Regions from separate parts of the Homo sapiens genome. Here region 1 is linked to region 2. The links come from fine-mapping of genetic effects on gene expression. A gene starts in region 2. The other region holds a variant in brackets. All regions are shown on one strand. Distances are from middle to middle. Region 1 overlaps PCSK9 (proprotein convertase subtilisin/kexin type 9). Region 2 holds the start of MIR4422HG (MIR4422 host gene).

The links. PIP is the estimated chance that this variant, and not a neighbour inherited with it, causes the effect.
Region 1: its variant is fine-mapped to the expression of MIR4422HG in T cells (GENCORD, PIP 0.95).

The regions. Positions count from the first base shown.
Region 1 is chr1:55,053,745-55,061,744 of GRCh38, forward strand. It overlaps PCSK9 (proprotein convertase subtilisin/kexin type 9), which reads left to right. Exons shown (of 12, transcript NM_174936.4): 6 at 2,249-2,445; 7 at 3,587-3,770; 8 at 4,292-4,465; 9 at 4,755-4,903; 10 at 5,742-5,919; 11 at 7,631-7,812. Among named protein-coding and RNA genes, the nearest start is that of PCSK9, 18 kb to the left of the region's middle. The variant C/CCGGT (reference allele first, on the strand shown) is at 3,324.
Region 2 is chr1:55,213,088-55,221,087 of GRCh38, forward strand. It overlaps MIR4422HG (MIR4422 host gene), which reads left to right and starts at 4,774. Exons shown (of 2, transcript NR_146283.1): 1 at 4,774-4,845. It overlaps USP24 (ubiquitin specific peptidase 24), which reads right to left and starts at 2,277. Exons shown (of 68, transcript NM_015306.3): 1 at 1,703-2,277. The coding sequence starts at 2,026. It overlaps LOC100507634 (a long non-coding RNA gene), which reads left to right and starts at 2,321. Exons shown (of 1, transcript NR_038320.1): 1 at 2,321-4,368. RefSeq lists an enhancer at 1,165-1,224 and silencers at 1,685-1,874, 1,945-2,454.

The sequences.
Region 1 (8,000 bases), 160 kb before region 2:
CTTCTGCCCCATCAGGTGACCCCTTGTGCCTGTCCCACCCCTTTATTGACTGACCTCGGCTCAGTCAGGTCAGTTCCTGAAGGTCAGTGTGTGGAGGGGAGGCTGTTCTTTCCCAGAAAGGCCTTCCCCAGGCCTGGTGCTCTGGCCTCTGGAGGACTTCCTGGAGAAGTCCCTTCTTTGGGGTCCCAGTCAGTGTATGGGAAGCCCTTATTGCATGACCTGGCACGGGGCAGGGGCTCAACAGTCACTATTGCCTTCCTTGCCACTGCCATTTCCTCCTCTGTAAGCAGGTGATTGTGTGTCCAGTCTGAGCACAGAGATAAGCACACAGCAGGTGCTTAATAACTAGCAGCTGTAGGCTGGGCGCGGTGGCTCATGCCTGTAATCCCAGCACTTTGGGAGGCCGAGGTGGGCAGATCACCTGAGGTCAGGAGTTCGAGACCAGCCTGTTCAACATGGTGAAACCCCGTCTCTACTAAAAATACAAAAATTAGCCAGGCATGGTGGTGGGTGTCTGTATCCCAGCTACTTGGGAGGCTAAGGCAGGAGAATCGCTTGAACCCAGGAGGTGGAGGTTGCAGTGAGCTGAGATCGTGCCACTGCAATCCAGCCTGAGTGATAGAGCGAGATTCCATCTCAAAAATAAATAAGTAAATAACTAGCAGCTGTAAATGTGGCTGTTGTTCTTCACCTCCACACTCAGTGCCACTCCACTCCCTCCCTCCGTGGTGTGAGGGGCCTCACTAGCTGTCTCCTAGGAGGAGCATGGCTGTGAGATTCCAGCTCCATCCTTGGCCACGGCTCCTGGAGACATCTTAGAGGCCAGGATCCAGAAGGCTCCCACACCTCATTTGACAGGGGAGAAGCTGTCAGTTCCAGGTCCCCTTGCACATCAGGGCCAGAGCTGCGTTAGGCCTCCAGTCTCCAGGCCACTGGGCCAGAGCTCACAGGCTGGCAGAGGGTTAGAACTGTTACTGGTGGCTGGGTGCAGTGGCTCACGCCTGTAATCTTAGCACTTTGGGAGGGCAAGGCGGGAGGATCATGAGGTCAGGACATCGAGACCATCCTTGCTAACACGGTGAAGCCCCGTCTCTACTAAAACTACAAAAAATTAGCCGGGCGTGGTGGCAGGCGCCTGTAGTCCCAGCTACTCAGGAGGCTGAGGCAGGAGAATGGCGTGAACCCGGGAGGCGGAGCTTGCAGTGAGCCGAGATTGCGCCACTGCACTCCAGCCTGGGCAATAGAGCGAGACTCCGTCTGGAAAGAAAAAAAAAAAAAAGAGCTGTTACTGTTGACAGTAGCATGAGGTAGACCATGGCCTGCACCAAAATGGGGGAGTGGAGTGCCACTGAGGCCAGAAGGAACCACACCCTCAAGGGTGGGGAGTTATGGTATGGGGGGTCCTAGGCATGGAGTCTTTTAATTCTTTAGACAATCCTGGGAGCAACTGTCCCTGTTTCACAGAGGGCGGGGCCACACAGCTGGTGAGTGGGCAGCCAAGACTCTGTTCAAGTTTGTGTGGGTCCAACACTTGCGGCCACGGTGGAGGGGCATCTGAGCCAGGCCTCAGAGAGTGGCGGGGGAAGTTGGGTGGGGAAGTGTGCCCTTCTCATTCCTCTGAGGCTCATCCTCTTGGTGCCTCTCTTTCATGGAAAGGGATAATAAGGTTATTGTGAGGATCCCCTGAGTTCGTATATTCAGACGCTTAGACAGAGCCAGGCACAGAGAAGGGCCCGGGGTTGGCTAGTTTGATTGCTGGTGTAATTGCTAATATCTTCCAGTTTGTATTGGTCAAGGTTCTGCAGAGAAGCAGAACCAGTAGGATGTATATATTAAGAGTTTCAAGCTCATGTGACCGTGCGGGCTGGCAAGTCTGAAATCCGCAGGGCAGGCCAGGCAGGCTGGCAATTCCTGCAGAATTTGATGTTGCAATACTGAGTCCTAAGGCAGTCCTGGGGCAGAATTCCTTCTTCCCTGGGAGGCCTCAGTCTGTTCTCTTAAGGCCTTCAACTGATTAAATGAGGCCTGCCCAAGTTATAGAGAGTAACCTGCCTTACTCCGTCTTCTGATTTAAATGTTAGTCACATCTAAAAAATATTTTCGCAGCAGCATTTCCACTGGCTTTTGACCAAACATCAGGCCACAAAGTTGATCCCCAAAATTAACCATCACTCTGTGCCTGTAAGGGAGGGGCTGGGAAAGGGGAGCAGGTCTCCCCAAGGGGTGACCTTGGCTTTGTTCCTCCCAGGCCTGGAGTTTATTCGGAAAAGCCAGCTGGTCCAGCCTGTGGGGCCACTGGTGGTGCTGCTGCCCCTGGCGGGTGGGTACAGCCGCGTCCTCAACGCCGCCTGCCAGCGCCTGGCGAGGGCTGGGGTCGTGCTGGTCACCGCTGCCGGCAACTTCCGGGACGATGCCTGCCTCTACTCCCCAGCCTCAGCTCCCGAGGTAGGTGCTGGGGCTGCTGCCCCAAGGCGCGGGTAGGGGGCGGAGGGCGGAGGGCGGAGGGAGGGCGGGCGGGCAGGCGGGCTTCTTGTGGCACGTGGGCTTCTTGTGGCACGTTCCTGGAGGCCGAACCCTTCTGGCTTTGGAAGGAGTCGTCAGAGACCCCCGCCATGCGGGAGGCTGGGGAGGAAGGGGCTCGAAACCTCCATCATCGCAGAGTCTGAATAGCAGTGGCCCCGCCATGCGCCCACGTAGCGGCGCCTACGTAGCCACGCCCCCACACCCCGTCCTGGCCACTCTCCCTCCTGAAGGTCTTCTGGTACCCGCCCCCTCCCCATCTCCATCCCCAGGCCCTGCGTCCTCTGCCCAATACTCTTTGGGCCTCCCTGTTGTCCAGCTCTCTCCGCGGCTCCATGACTGACAACTTGAGCAAGGCTAATGTGAATGGGAGCGGTTGAGGGCTCAGACCTCTCACCCGAGGAACATCCACAGAGTGTGCCGCATGCCCGGTGCAGTGTGGCTGCGGGGACACAGACACGGAGCCTCGGCCCTGAGGAGCTGGGGGGCAGTGACCGTCCCTCCTCTGACCCACCACTCCTCCAGTGTCAGGACACTGCGGGTATCTAGGGGAAGGAATCTTGTTCCACTTCAAGTCTGGAACTTCAAGTCTGTGTGTGTGCGTGCGCGCGCGCGCGTTGGGGGTGGGGGTTGCAGAGCAGATGCGTACCTGACAGCGGTAACCTAGGTCCCCCCTGGCCTATCAAGGCTTCCCTGGCGGCCGAATTTAAAGGCATCAAGCAAACAAAGCCCAACACATCTCTGCCTTGTCCTCTCAGTTTCCCCCCGTGGCACTTAGAACCACTTGATACACCGAATAGTTT[C/CCGGT]CTATCTCCCCCACTAGGATGTAAACTCCACAGGGGCATTGGGAATGCTGCCTGGCTATGGTAGGGACAGAGGGGAGCACCAGGGCGGGGCAGGGGTGCCAGAGTTCTGCCTGGGCAGTCAGATTTTCCTTAGGAGGGGACATTTGAGTGGGACCCAAACAGGTGTATAGCAGTTGTCCAGCCCAGCTGGCAAGGCCTGAGTCTGCCTCTGCAACCCCTCTCTTGGGCTCCTTTCTCTGCCACCCACCTCCTCACCTTTCCAGGTCATCACAGTTGGGGCCACCAATGCCCAAGACCAGCCGGTGACCCTGGGGACTTTGGGGACCAACTTTGGCCGCTGTGTGGACCTCTTTGCCCCAGGGGAGGACATCATTGGTGCCTCCAGCGACTGCAGCACCTGCTTTGTGTCACAGAGTGGGACATCACAGGCTGCTGCCCACGTGGCTGGTAAGTCACCACCCCACTGCCTCGGCCACCGTGATGCTAACAGCCCCTTTGGCAGTCAGGGTCTGTGCCGGGACCTCCAGTGCCAGGCTCTGTGCAGGGGGACCAGAGATGAAGTAGGCCTGATGGTGCCTTCAAGGACACTCAGTCTGATGAGGGAGGCGAGTGCACAGAGGAAACACGAGGTCAGGGCTGTATTAGAGGGAGCCCAGAGGAGGCACCTGCCCAGCCCGAGGGTCAGAGAAGGCATCTTGGAGGAGGGACATTTGATCGGGAGCTTGATGGATGAATAGGAGTTCACCTGGCCGATAAGACAGCAACTACCAAGGCTTAGAGGTGTGAGAGGAGGCTGTCTTACCTCACTGAGTAAGGACTGCAGGCGGCTTACCTTCGAGAAGAGAGCTTAGTGTCTGTGTGCACGTGTGTTTGTGTGTATGTGTGTGCGTGTGTGCACTGGCAGGAGTCCCCTGCTGGGGCAGGAGGGCCGGGCCATCACCATCTTTCACCATTCACCCCTGCACCAGGCATTGCAGCCATGATGCTGTCTGCCGAGCCGGAGCTCACCCTGGCCGAGTTGAGGCAGAGACTGATCCACTTCTCTGCCAAAGATGTCATCAATGAGGCCTGGTTCCCTGAGGACCAGCGGGTACTGACCCCCAACCTGGTGGCCGCCCTGCCCCCCAGCACCCATGGGGCAGGTAAGCAGGATGGCAGGGTGGGCAAGTCCAGGCTGGGGCTTGGGAGGTCTGTGTGACCTTGACAGTCTCTCCCTTCTCCCTTGTCTGTGTAAGGAGGATGACGCCACCTTAAATAGGATTAAATGAGAATGGGGCTCTGAAAGGGCTGTGCAATATTTTCATAACGTGTTTTTATAGAGACAGTTGAGTATGTTCTTTAAGCCCTCCTCTCTCCTACCATGAACTAAAGATTTCTGTGGAGGTCCCCTCACTCCCAGCACCCCCTCCTCATCCCAGGCCCTTTTTGCAGGTTGGCAGCTGTTTTGCAGGACTGTATGGTCAGCACACTCGGGGCCTACACGGATGGCCACAGCCGTCGCCCGCTGCGCCCCAGATGAGGAGCTGCTGAGCTGCTCCAGTTTCTCCAGGAGTGGGAAGCGGCGGGGCGAGCGCATGGAGGTGACTGTACCCCTCCTTCGTGTGTGTGTGTGTGTGTGTGTGTGTGTGTGTGTGTGTGTGTGTGTGTGTGTCAGTGCTGGGCCCTCAGGGACCCCCAGCAAGCCCCTCCATCCTCCAGACTCCAGCTCTTCTGTAAGCTTACAGGGCTGGCCAGACCAGGAGTGGGGCACTCCTCACTTCACGCGGCTGGGGGCTGCTGGAGAGAGCCACAGCGGGAAGGGTTTCCTAGAGGCTGCAGGACAGTGCTGGATGGATTTTCAATGCTCACCTGGGTGTGAGCGTGCGGCAGGGCCGCGTGAGGGTCAGCGATCTGCTACTCTGGACTCAGCCATCTCTAGGCCCCTCTCACTCAGGTGCTCCATGGTTCTGGGAGCTGAGAAATCTCAAACCAGCAAAAAAGTGGAATTGATGTTGATGCTACAGGATAGTGCACAGATGCCATCTGGTTGCAGCATTTTGGTGGAAGGGCAGTGCCCAGCTAGGAGAGTGAGGAGGGGCAGGCATTTCTGGCTTGAGGAGATGGGGTCTTAATGCTCGTGTGAGAGGCAGAGTGGGTGGAGTGGAGCTGGCTGGATCCTTGCTTTGGCCTCCTGGATTTCTCTCTATCTCCATTTTGAAACCACTCTGTGTTTGGAAGAACTTTTGAGTATTCAGAGCTGCCCACTGGCAGAACAGTCTTCCTTGGGCAGGAGTGAGCTCCTTGTCCCCAGAAGGCTGGGTCTGGCTGGCCCCTGGCAGGGACACTGATGAGGGTGCTTGAGTTGATCCTGTCTAGTCCCTTTCTGTGTTTTCAAAGCCCATTCTAAAGCAGATTCCCATTTCCGTCTTTGACTCTAAGGCCCAAGGGGGCAAGCTGGTCTGCCGGGCCCACAACGCTTTTGGGGGTGAGGGTGTCTACGCCATTGCCAGGTGCTGCCTGCTACCCCAGGCCAACTGCAGCGTCCACACAGCTCCACCAGCTGAGGCCAGCATGGGGACCCGTGTCCACTGCCACCAACAGGGCCACGTCCTCACAGGTAGGAGGCTGGGCTTGCCCTGGGGTGAGGAGGGGTCTCTTTCTCCTTATGCACCCACTGCCCGCGAGGCTTGGTCCTCACAAGTGTGATCCATGAGACTCAAGCCTGACTTGCAGTTCCATACTCTGGTTCTGCCACTTCCATGCCCTTTGAGCCTGGGCAGGTGACCTTACTTCTCCTCATCTCAGCTTCCTCCTCCATAAGAGGGAAAAAGGTATTACCTGCCTCATTGTGTTGCAAGGAGATGGGCAGCATCTAGGGCACTGGCCTGGAGTATCGCAGGTGCTTTGCCTAAGGTGGTGCAGTCCAGGAGAGGCAGCTCCAGAGAGAGGCCCCCGGCTGGGGCTGAAAGGAGGGCAGACCTCGGTTTGAATTTCACCCTGCCGCTCTATAGCTGTGTGACTTGGGCAAATTACTTAACATCTCTGTATGAGGAAATGATGAGTGCTAAGCACTTAGCTTAGTGCCGGGACAATATAAATTCTAGCTATCGTTACTATTGTTTTCATCACCCGTTGCTTTAAAATCCAGCCTCTGGTATAGGCAACTATTGACGGGCTACCCTGTGTCGAAAACATGCCCAGGCAGGTAGCAGGAAGTCACAGATGGGGACCTCTTGGGGCATCAAGGGATGGTGCCCTGAGGCTGAGCTGTTCTGGTTGGGTGGAGCATGAGAGGTCTGGGAAGACAGTGGGACTCCAGCCTGGAATAAGAGGCTCAGAGTTGATTCTCGTCTGAGCACGTCCAGGGGAACCACTGAGGGTTTGGGAACAGGAGAGTGAGGGTGAGAACCTGGTTCTGGGCACAGCAGGCTGGCATGTAGGATGGATGTTCAGGAAAGATGAGCATAGTCAGGTGGCTGGTGCCCTTGTCCAGGGGAGAGGCTCCGTCAGGTTCAGGGGTCCTGGCTTGGAGGGAAGTCCGCCATGCTCTAATCACGCTCCCCTTTGGAAGTGCTCAGCCGATGAGCTCACAGGCACATGTCAGTTTGAAGTCATGGAATCTGACTCCATGAAGCGCACCTCAAAGAGCACCATTTTGCAGCTAAGGGAACTGCAGGCTGGACATGCTGAGTGGCTGCCCCGAGCCCTTGCAGCTAGGACATAGAGAATGCTAGTAACCACAACCCTACCATGTTCAGAGCACATGCCAGGCTCCATGCTGGGGCTTCGCACGTGTCATCTTCACAGTGTCCCTGTGAGTAGGTGTGGTTTCTCTTTCCATCTTACAAATGAGTAAACAGAGCCTCAGTGTAGCTAAGTAACCACTATTTTAGGTTTCTTAGCCAATGGGTGTGTCTGACTCCTAAGCCCATGGAGGGCATTCTGAGGTGGTTCAGACAGACCCCGGCTTACCCTTGAACTTCTGCCTGCTGGCTGCATAGGGAGGGGCTGGGGGGAGTTTGAGCATCTCAGGCCATAGAGCCCCTGCCTCACTGTCTCCATCTCTGGGTGGAAAGATGGTGTTTTCCCTGAGAAACTAAGGCTCAGAGAGGTTGAATGGCTCTCCCAAGGTCACACAGCTGGTCAGCTGCAGAGTTGAGAACACAGGAGTCCTGGTGCTCAGGCCAGCATCTCTTTTTTTCTTTGAGTTGTTTCTAGGTTTCCTAGCTCTTGCCTCAGACCTTAAAGAGAGAGGGTCTGATGGGGATGGGCACTGGAGACGGAGCATCCCAGCATTTCACATCTGAGCTGGCTTTCCTCTGCCCCAGGCTGCAGCTCCCACTGGGAGGTGGAGGACCTTGGCACCCACAAGCCGCCTGTGCTGAGGCCACGAGGTCAGCCCAACCAGTGCGTGGGCCACAGGGAGGCCAGCATCCACGCTTCCTGCTGCCATGCCCCAGGTCTGGAATGCAAAGTCAAGGAGCATGGAATCCCGGCCCCTCAGGAGCAGGTGAAGAGGCCCGTGAGGCCGGGTGGGTGGGGTGCTGCGTGTCTCTCCTGCACAGCTTTTCTGTGTCAGTTTGTGCCACCACCATACCGCCATGCATCAGGGTGGCGGTTTGCCAGGTAGATGCTGTGGGCAGCTTCCGCCATTGTGTGGACAGCATGTATATGTGTCTCTGTGTGGCTGGGTCTGTT
Region 2 (8,000 bases):
GGATACACTGAGCTTTGCAGAGTTATACAAACACCTTCTGAAAAAGCAACGGCTTTCTTCTTGATTTCAAAACTGGGTCAAAAACTAGAAGGAACGAGGGAGGAGTGATAGGAACTGCCAATGAGAAGCTGATTTCTTAAAATGACTTAAGTATGGTTACTCAATTATATGGGAATTTAAAAAAATTCCCAAACTAGGAATAGTAACAATCTTTATTTCCATATACTAGTCAACGATACAGCTAAGTTAGTGGGTTACAGAGGGCAATCTAGCAACTGTGTCTAAGTGTGGAAGCCAAAGAAATCTTGTGCAGAAACCTGTTCTTTTTAAGTGCCACCTTCTTGTTCAAGCTACTTCAGCCCGAGGAACTGTTGCAAAAGCATACAATTAAAAGGATATAACACTGCTCAGGAAAAAGTGTTTCAAAAGGCTTAGCTTCACTAAGCTTAATTCTTCATTAAGAACGAACCAAATTCGTATCTCTACCTAATAACGCAATCCCAATAATTTGAGATCTGTGCTTTTCTGTGGTCAGGCCAAGCTGCTCTACTGGCCCCTGAAATGAACTACCCAACGAATCTGACCAAAATTCCTGCCATGAGCTACTATGTTTCTGCAAAGTAATTATTCAAAAGCACTGCTGCTTCTGGTCGATCTTTTTTCTTTATTATAGAAGAGTCCGTTTTCTTCCCCCACGTTCCTTGCTCACACCCCAAACTAAACAGGCATAGTCTTCTCCACCTAGACTTGAGGTCTCTGATCAAAGCCATTAGCCTCAAGACTCCTCCTCCACCCCCACTGCGCTCCCACCCTGTTCCGCGCCCCTCTGCATAGCACCCTCAGTATGACTACCATCTCTTTCCCCGGTCTAATTTTCTCTCATTTCTGACCTTATCGATGACCAGTACTCCCTCTTTACCCAGACCTGGTGCCAGCTCTATCTTCCAATTCCAGTCCCCATCCCTGCCTAGACCCTCCTCAGCTCCCACCCCTGCCCAGGCCTCCCACCTCTGCCCTCTCAGTGCAATCCCCACTGCTCTCATACCTGATTTTATTCAAGTCCTCATTCCTGGCCGCGGCCCCTTCCCTCTTCATTTTAAATCCTACTCAATGCCCCCCCTTTCCGACCCTTGGCTAAAACCCCAACCTCACTCCTAACCCCAACAGTTTTCCTGTGATCCTGTCAAAGACCACTACTCTGGCCGGCCCACACCGCTTTTTCTGACTCTGAGCCTGGTGCCTCCGCCAATCCTTCACTGAAACCTCGTGCCACAAAATCTCCGACCTAGCCTAGTGCACTAGTACCCCATTTCCGACCCCCTACTGCACGCATCCTTCCCACTATATGCTCAAGTGTCTGTCCTCCCATCTCGGATGATAGCCCTGGAGCCTCCTCCCCATCGTCGGCGTGCATAGCCGGAAGCCTAAGGGACCCCTCCTCACCCCAACCCACAGCTCCGCTGCGCATCCCTAATTCCCTTTCACACGCCTCTCCTATGGGTCCCTCTCCCCACTTACCCCCAATCAAGTGACTTCGGTTCCCAACTGGAGCCTGGGGCTTCTCTCTCTCTCTCCGCCCCGCCCCCACTAAAGCCCCAGTCGAATGCCCTCTCTCCCCACACCAAGCCCAGCGGGGTGTGTCCCCTCCCAGGAACTCCAGCCCAGTGGCTTCCCACAGAGGTCTGGGGTTGCCCCTCCTCACCTCCGCGTCCACCACCTCGTGGTAGGCGGGCGGGGGGTCGAAGCCGCCCCCGCCTCCGGTGCTCCCGCCGCGGGAGGGGCCGCCGCCGCCGCCGTCACCTCCGCCGTCGCCCCGCGGGCCCCCGCCGGGCCCGGGGCTGGGGCCACCGCCGCTGTCCATGGGCTCGTAGCCGCCGTAGTCGAGGCCCGGCCGCTCGTTGGTGAGCAGTGCCACGGCCTCGTTAATGTCGTTCTTGGCCAGGCGCAGGGCCTTGCGGATGGTGGCGGGGTCTGAGAAGCCCATGCACAGCAGCGTGGTCATGTGCTGCTCCTCCTCCGATTCCATGGCTTGGGCCTCCTGGCCGCCCCGGCCAGCGCACGGCGAAGCTACGGGTCCCGGGCCTGGCGGGCCGCGCGGCGCACCCTCCGCGCCGCCTCCGCGCCCAGGTTGGCCCCTGCGTTCCTGCCCCGGGTGCTCCGCAGCAGCCGGGCCAGGCTGGGTGCGGGCTTGGGTCCTGCGAGCCGAGCTAGTGCGGTGAGGCGCTCAGGCGCGGCTGCGGCCCGGCCCAGCCCTGCGCGCCGCCATGTTGGCCTCCTCCCCCTCCGCCTCCTCCTCCCCGGGCGGCGGGGCCGCGCCTCGGCTCCCGGAAGCGGCACGGGAGGCGACCGTGCTCGCCGTTGGCAGGCTAGGGTTGGCGGCGGCGTATTCTGTTTGTTTTAAACGAAGGAGCGGAGGGAGGGGCCGCGCCGCGGAGCGTGCCTAAGGTGAAAGGGCTGCCGTGCAGCCAGGCAGAGGCGAGGAAGGCTTCTCCATCGTCGCCACCGCCCGCCTGTTTCGCCGGCAACAGGTTCCCCCGGGACGGGAGGGGCCGCAGCGCCGCGCAGCTCGCAGCGCTGAACGTCGCGGAAATCCCTTGGCCGGCCGAGCCTCCGCAGCCGCGACCCGGCTTCTCTCCGTCCGAGTCCCCCGAGCCTCTCCGAACCCCCGTTGGACTTCCCCTCCCTGGCCGGCGCCGCCCGACCCGCTCCCCCATCCTAGAGGGAATTCCCTGCGCCGCGGCTGTGAGGCACCTCCACCCCGGCCTGAAATGCACCGCAGTCCTGAAGGAAATCCACCCTCATCCCACGCAGATTCACCCGCAACGCTGCCTGAATACGCCTCGCTGCCCACAGAAATTCCTGCCCAAACCAGACGCGTGGACCACCCAAGACGAAATTCACACTCGACCCTAGCCCCGCCAGCCCTTGCCGAAATCACCCTAAACCCGTTGAAATTAATTCCCAGCTGTCCGAATTTTCCTTCCAACATTAACTGACTACCTGTCTCCGCCAAGCTGACTGAACTCTACCGAACTCTTACCCTGAAAGCCCCTGAGAGTCCAAAATATATTTTTCCAGCCCGAAATCTAAATCCCAGTTCTCTGTATGAAAACCTCCAGAAACCCAGACTCTTACTTCCTTCGGCCACGGACTCGTTCGAACATCGTGGACATCACCTTCCCACATTTTTACCGCAGTCTTTGGCTCCGATTCTTTGTCCCTGCCTCTTGGGCAGCATCCTATCCCTGTTTCTTTCCACCTTTGAGGATTCCTCTACCTCTTTAAAGGCCTGCTTTCTTTGCTTTCTCTTCTCACCTTTGGCATTGGCACACTGGGGTCATATCTTTAGTTCCCTTGACTCCACCATCTAAGCCAAGGGTGTCCAATCTTTTGGCTTCCCTGGGCTACATTGGAAGGAGAAAAATTGTCTTGGACCACATATAAAATATTCTAACGCTAATGGTAGCTGATGAAACTTTTAAAAAATCTCATCATGTTTTAAGAAGTTTACGAATTTGTGCTGAGCCGCATTCAAAGCCGTCCTGGGCCTAAGTCCTTGCTATTTTTCCTCTTCAATTTCCTTCAATCCATAGTTCTCTAGGTTATTTTCCCACCCTTTCCCAAGATTCGGATATCCCTTCATTCTTGCTGAGTTCATCTCCTATGCCTATTCCTACATACTTGCTGAGTTCATCTTCTAATGTCCTCATCCTGGTTTCTTCCTGAACCTGAAATCCAGCTAACCTTACTTTTTCATCCCATCAAACCCCTGCTGTTGCCAGCCCAGCACTCACGAAGATCTTTACATACACCAAATATTAAATTAGGGCCGGTACCTAGACATTGTCTCTGCACTCTGCTGGCATATTTTCCCCTGGACCACGAACCCTTCGTACCTAGTAACTTGCCACCTGTGTTTATAAATACCAGCAATTTGATTTACAGGGTGAATTTGTCACTATTGTTTACTTTTAAATGAAGTTACTGTATTTGTTGTTTCCATTAAAGGCGACATTATAAAGCCTAGGCCTCATATCCAAAGCAAATAAAGTCTCAATTTTTTAATTAAAAGTAACAAAAGGAAACCTCACACTTCTGAACAACAATGACAAGAAGGAATGCCTATAATTGGTTTGGGTCACAATGTACATATTGAAATAAAATTTTTATTAAGTATCAACTTCCAGGTACACAATGAAGTTTTAAATGTTTATCTGTGACATATGAAGAACAAAGCAATCTAAACTGATGTAAGCAGGCTGTCATAAGGTACATGCTGAGGAATTTATTCAACAAATTGAATAAATTTATTCAATAAATAAATAATTATTCAATAAATAATATATTTAATAAATTTAATAAATAGAATAAAAATGATTCTATTTACTGGGTGCCAGGTACTATTCTTCGCACAGACAAAAATTAGATGATGGCAAAGTGAGGGCATTCAATTCTGCCCTGTGTTTGAAGAGTTAATTACTAAGAAATGAATTACAAGGAGAGAGGAAGTAACAAGTAACAAAAAAATTGTTTGCCACTAAAATTTGAGGTAGAACCTAAAAGGTCATGAAAGAGCCGACTGAATCAGATGGCACGTTAAAAGACTCATCAACGGTGGCAGGTTTATAGAACATGACAGAGGAAGCTGTGCTTAGCTGAGAAGAGGAAGCAGAGAAGGAAGCAGAGAAAAACAAAGTCTGTGATAAAAACTGGAAAGGAGCCACAAAAGGCCACAAAAAACAAGGAAGTCCATTTTGGAACCGGATCCTGGAGTGACTGAAAAGGCAGAGTGTCATTTGAGGATGCGAGTAGTATAATCATACTTTTTTGCATGGAAGAAAGCAAGTGAGTACTTTAAACTGTGGAATTGGGATAGCAGGGGTGGGGCCTATGATATGAATATTCATACTTTTCATTTACATTTTTATTTTTATTGCAGTAAAATCTAGAAAATGTTGAGAGGATTTTTAAAAATTTAAATTACATTCAATTCCCATACATCTTTCTCTAGAAAGGTTCTAAAGGAAAAGAAAAAAATAGCTACATAGAGAAGTAAGGTATGATGAACTATCTTGAAGACTGAGGGTTTTCTACTGTTAATAAGTAAGTTTTCAAATTATAGATTGAATATCTACTTTGAGCCAGGCTGAGGACTAGGGAGACAATTGTGAGAAAAACATTACACAATTTCTACCCCTTTGGATCTTACTGTCTATAATAAAGGGAAATAGACAAATAATAGTCATAAAGCATGATAGACGCTTTGATGGGGGAATTTCAGGATATAAGGGGCAAATTTCTGCCCTCTGTGGGGGTAATTACCAAGTCTAGGAAAACTGAAAATTTTCCCAGAGAAGACGACGTTCAAACTATAATCTGACGTAAGGTTGGAAAGCCAGGAAAAGGAATATGAAATGAAGGGAGAAAGTTCCAAAGAACGGGAACAACATGTGCAAAGGTCCTGTTGTGGGTGAGAATAAAGCAATTTGGAGGAATTAAAAGCCAGTGGAGTATAGAATTCTAGAGAGATATGGATTGAGCATTCCTAACCTGAAATCTGAAATGCTCCAAAATCTGAAAAAAAAAAGTATTTTCTTATTCTTTTTTGTCTTCTTATTAAGAGATGGGGTTTCACCATGTTGCTCAGGCTGGTCTCAAACTCCTGAGCTCAAGTGATCTTCTCACCTCGGCCTCCCAAAGTGCTGGGATAACAGGCATGTGTGAGCCACTGCACCCAGCCCAAAATTTGAATTTTTTTTTTTTTTTTTTTTGGAGACAGAGTCTCACTCTGTCACCCAGGCTGGAGTGCAGTGGCACCATCTCGGCTCACTGCAACCTCTGCTGCAGGTTCAAGCAATTCTCCTGTCTCAGCCTCCTGAGTAGCTGGGATTACAGGCATCTGCCACCATGTCCAACTAATTTTTGTATTTTTAGTAGAGGCGAGGTTTCACCATGTTGGCCAGGCTGGTCTCAAGCTCCTGACCTCAAGTGATCTGCCTCCCTTGGCCTACCAAAATGCTGAGATTACAGGTGTGAGCCACCATGCCCAGCCCCCAAAATTTGAAAACTTGAGTGGTGACGTGATGCCACAAGTGGAGAACTCTGCACTTGACTTCATGTGATGGATTGCAGACAAAACATGGGTAGAAACTGAAAGCCTGCCATTGTTTGTTATTGTTGTTGTTTAACAGCTAATATAGGTATTCTGGGGATGATACTGCCCTATTTAGGTACCCTGAACACATTATTTTTTCACTGTATTAAGGGTATGCCATACTTTTTACTGTTAAGTACTTAAGTGTGAATGGTATAAGAAAAAAATTGCTTATGGGTAGCATATATATTCAGAGACAGGAATGATGATGATGCCAGACAATCACAGATTGTCCATATCAGTAGCTCACATGGTGACACCTCTGCTTTCTGATGGTTCAATGTATACAAACTTTGTTTCATGCATAAAATTAAAAATTTGTATTAGGTCGGTGCAAAAGTAATTGAGGTTTTGCCTTTAAAAGCAATGGCAAAAACTTCAATTACTTTTGCATCGACCTAGTATAAAATTATCTTCAGGCAGGGAGTGATAGCTCACACCTGTAATTCCAGCAGTTTGAAAGGCCAAGGCAGGCAGATCACCTGAGGTCAGGACTTCGAGACAACCCTGGCCAGTATGGTGAAACCTTGTCTCTGCTAAAAATACAAAAAATTAGCCAGGCATGGTGGTGGGCGCCTGTAATCCCAGCTATTTGGGAGGCTGAGGTAGGAGAATCGCTTGAACCCAGGAGATGGAAGTTGCAGTGAGCTAAGATTGCACCATTGCACTCCAGCCTGAGCAACAAGAGTGAAACTCCATCTGAAAAAAAAAAAATTAGCTGGGCGTGGTGGCATACACTTGTGAGCTCAGCTACACGGGAGCTGAGGCAGGATAATTGCTTGAACCCAGGAGGTGAAGGTTGCAGTGAGCTGAGATTGCTCCACTGTACTCCAGCCTGGGCGACAGAGGGAGACTCCGTCTCAATCAATCAATCAATCAATCAGTCAATACAATTATCTTCAGCTTAGGTGTATAAGGTGTGTTTAAAGGCTGGGCGCAGTGGCTCATGCCTGTAATCCCAGCACTTTGGGAGGCCAAGACAGGTGGATCACAAGGTCAGCAGATCAAGACCATCCTGGCTAACATGGTGAAACCCCGTCTCTACTAAAAATACCAAAAAAAAATTAGCCAACATGGTGGCACGCACCTGTAGTCCCAGCTACTCGAGAGGCTGAGGCAGGAGAATCGCTTGAACCTGGAAGGCGGAGGTTGCAGTGAGCCAAGATCACGCCACTGCACTCCATCCTGGGCGACAGAGTGAGACTCTGTCTAAGAAATAAATAAGTAAATAAATAAAAATAAGATTTGTATAAAACAAATGACTTTTGTGTTTATACTTGGGTCTCATTCCTAAGGTATCTCATTCTGTATACTCAAATATTCCAAAATCCAAAAATGTCCAAAATCTGAAAAACTTGTGGTCCCAAACATTTCAGATGAGAGATACTCAACATGTAGTAGTGAGAAAAGAAGCTAGGAAGGTGGACAGACACCAGTTCCAAGAGGGCCGCTCAAACTGTAATAAGGAAATTGAACTTTATTCTGAGGGAATGAGAAGTCACAGTAACATTTATGCAGAGGACGGAAGTGATGCTACTTAAACTGTAGAAAGATCAACCTAACTGCAGTTTGGAGAATGGTTTAGAAGGGAGGAAAAGTGAAGGTGGAGAACCCAGTAAGGAGACAAAACCAATTAGCCTTCCTAGGTAACCACTTTGGAATGAAAAGTTGAATGAAAAGTTGAGTTTTGTTTTCTTATGCAGTGTACAATTTTTGTCTTTTGTCTTGCCTTGAAGCAGTTTTAGTGTGATATGTCTAGATGTGGCTTTCTTTATATTTATCTTAATGGAGTTTGTAGAATTTGTTGAATATGTGTTTTGAGGTCTTTCATTAGCTTGGAAAATTC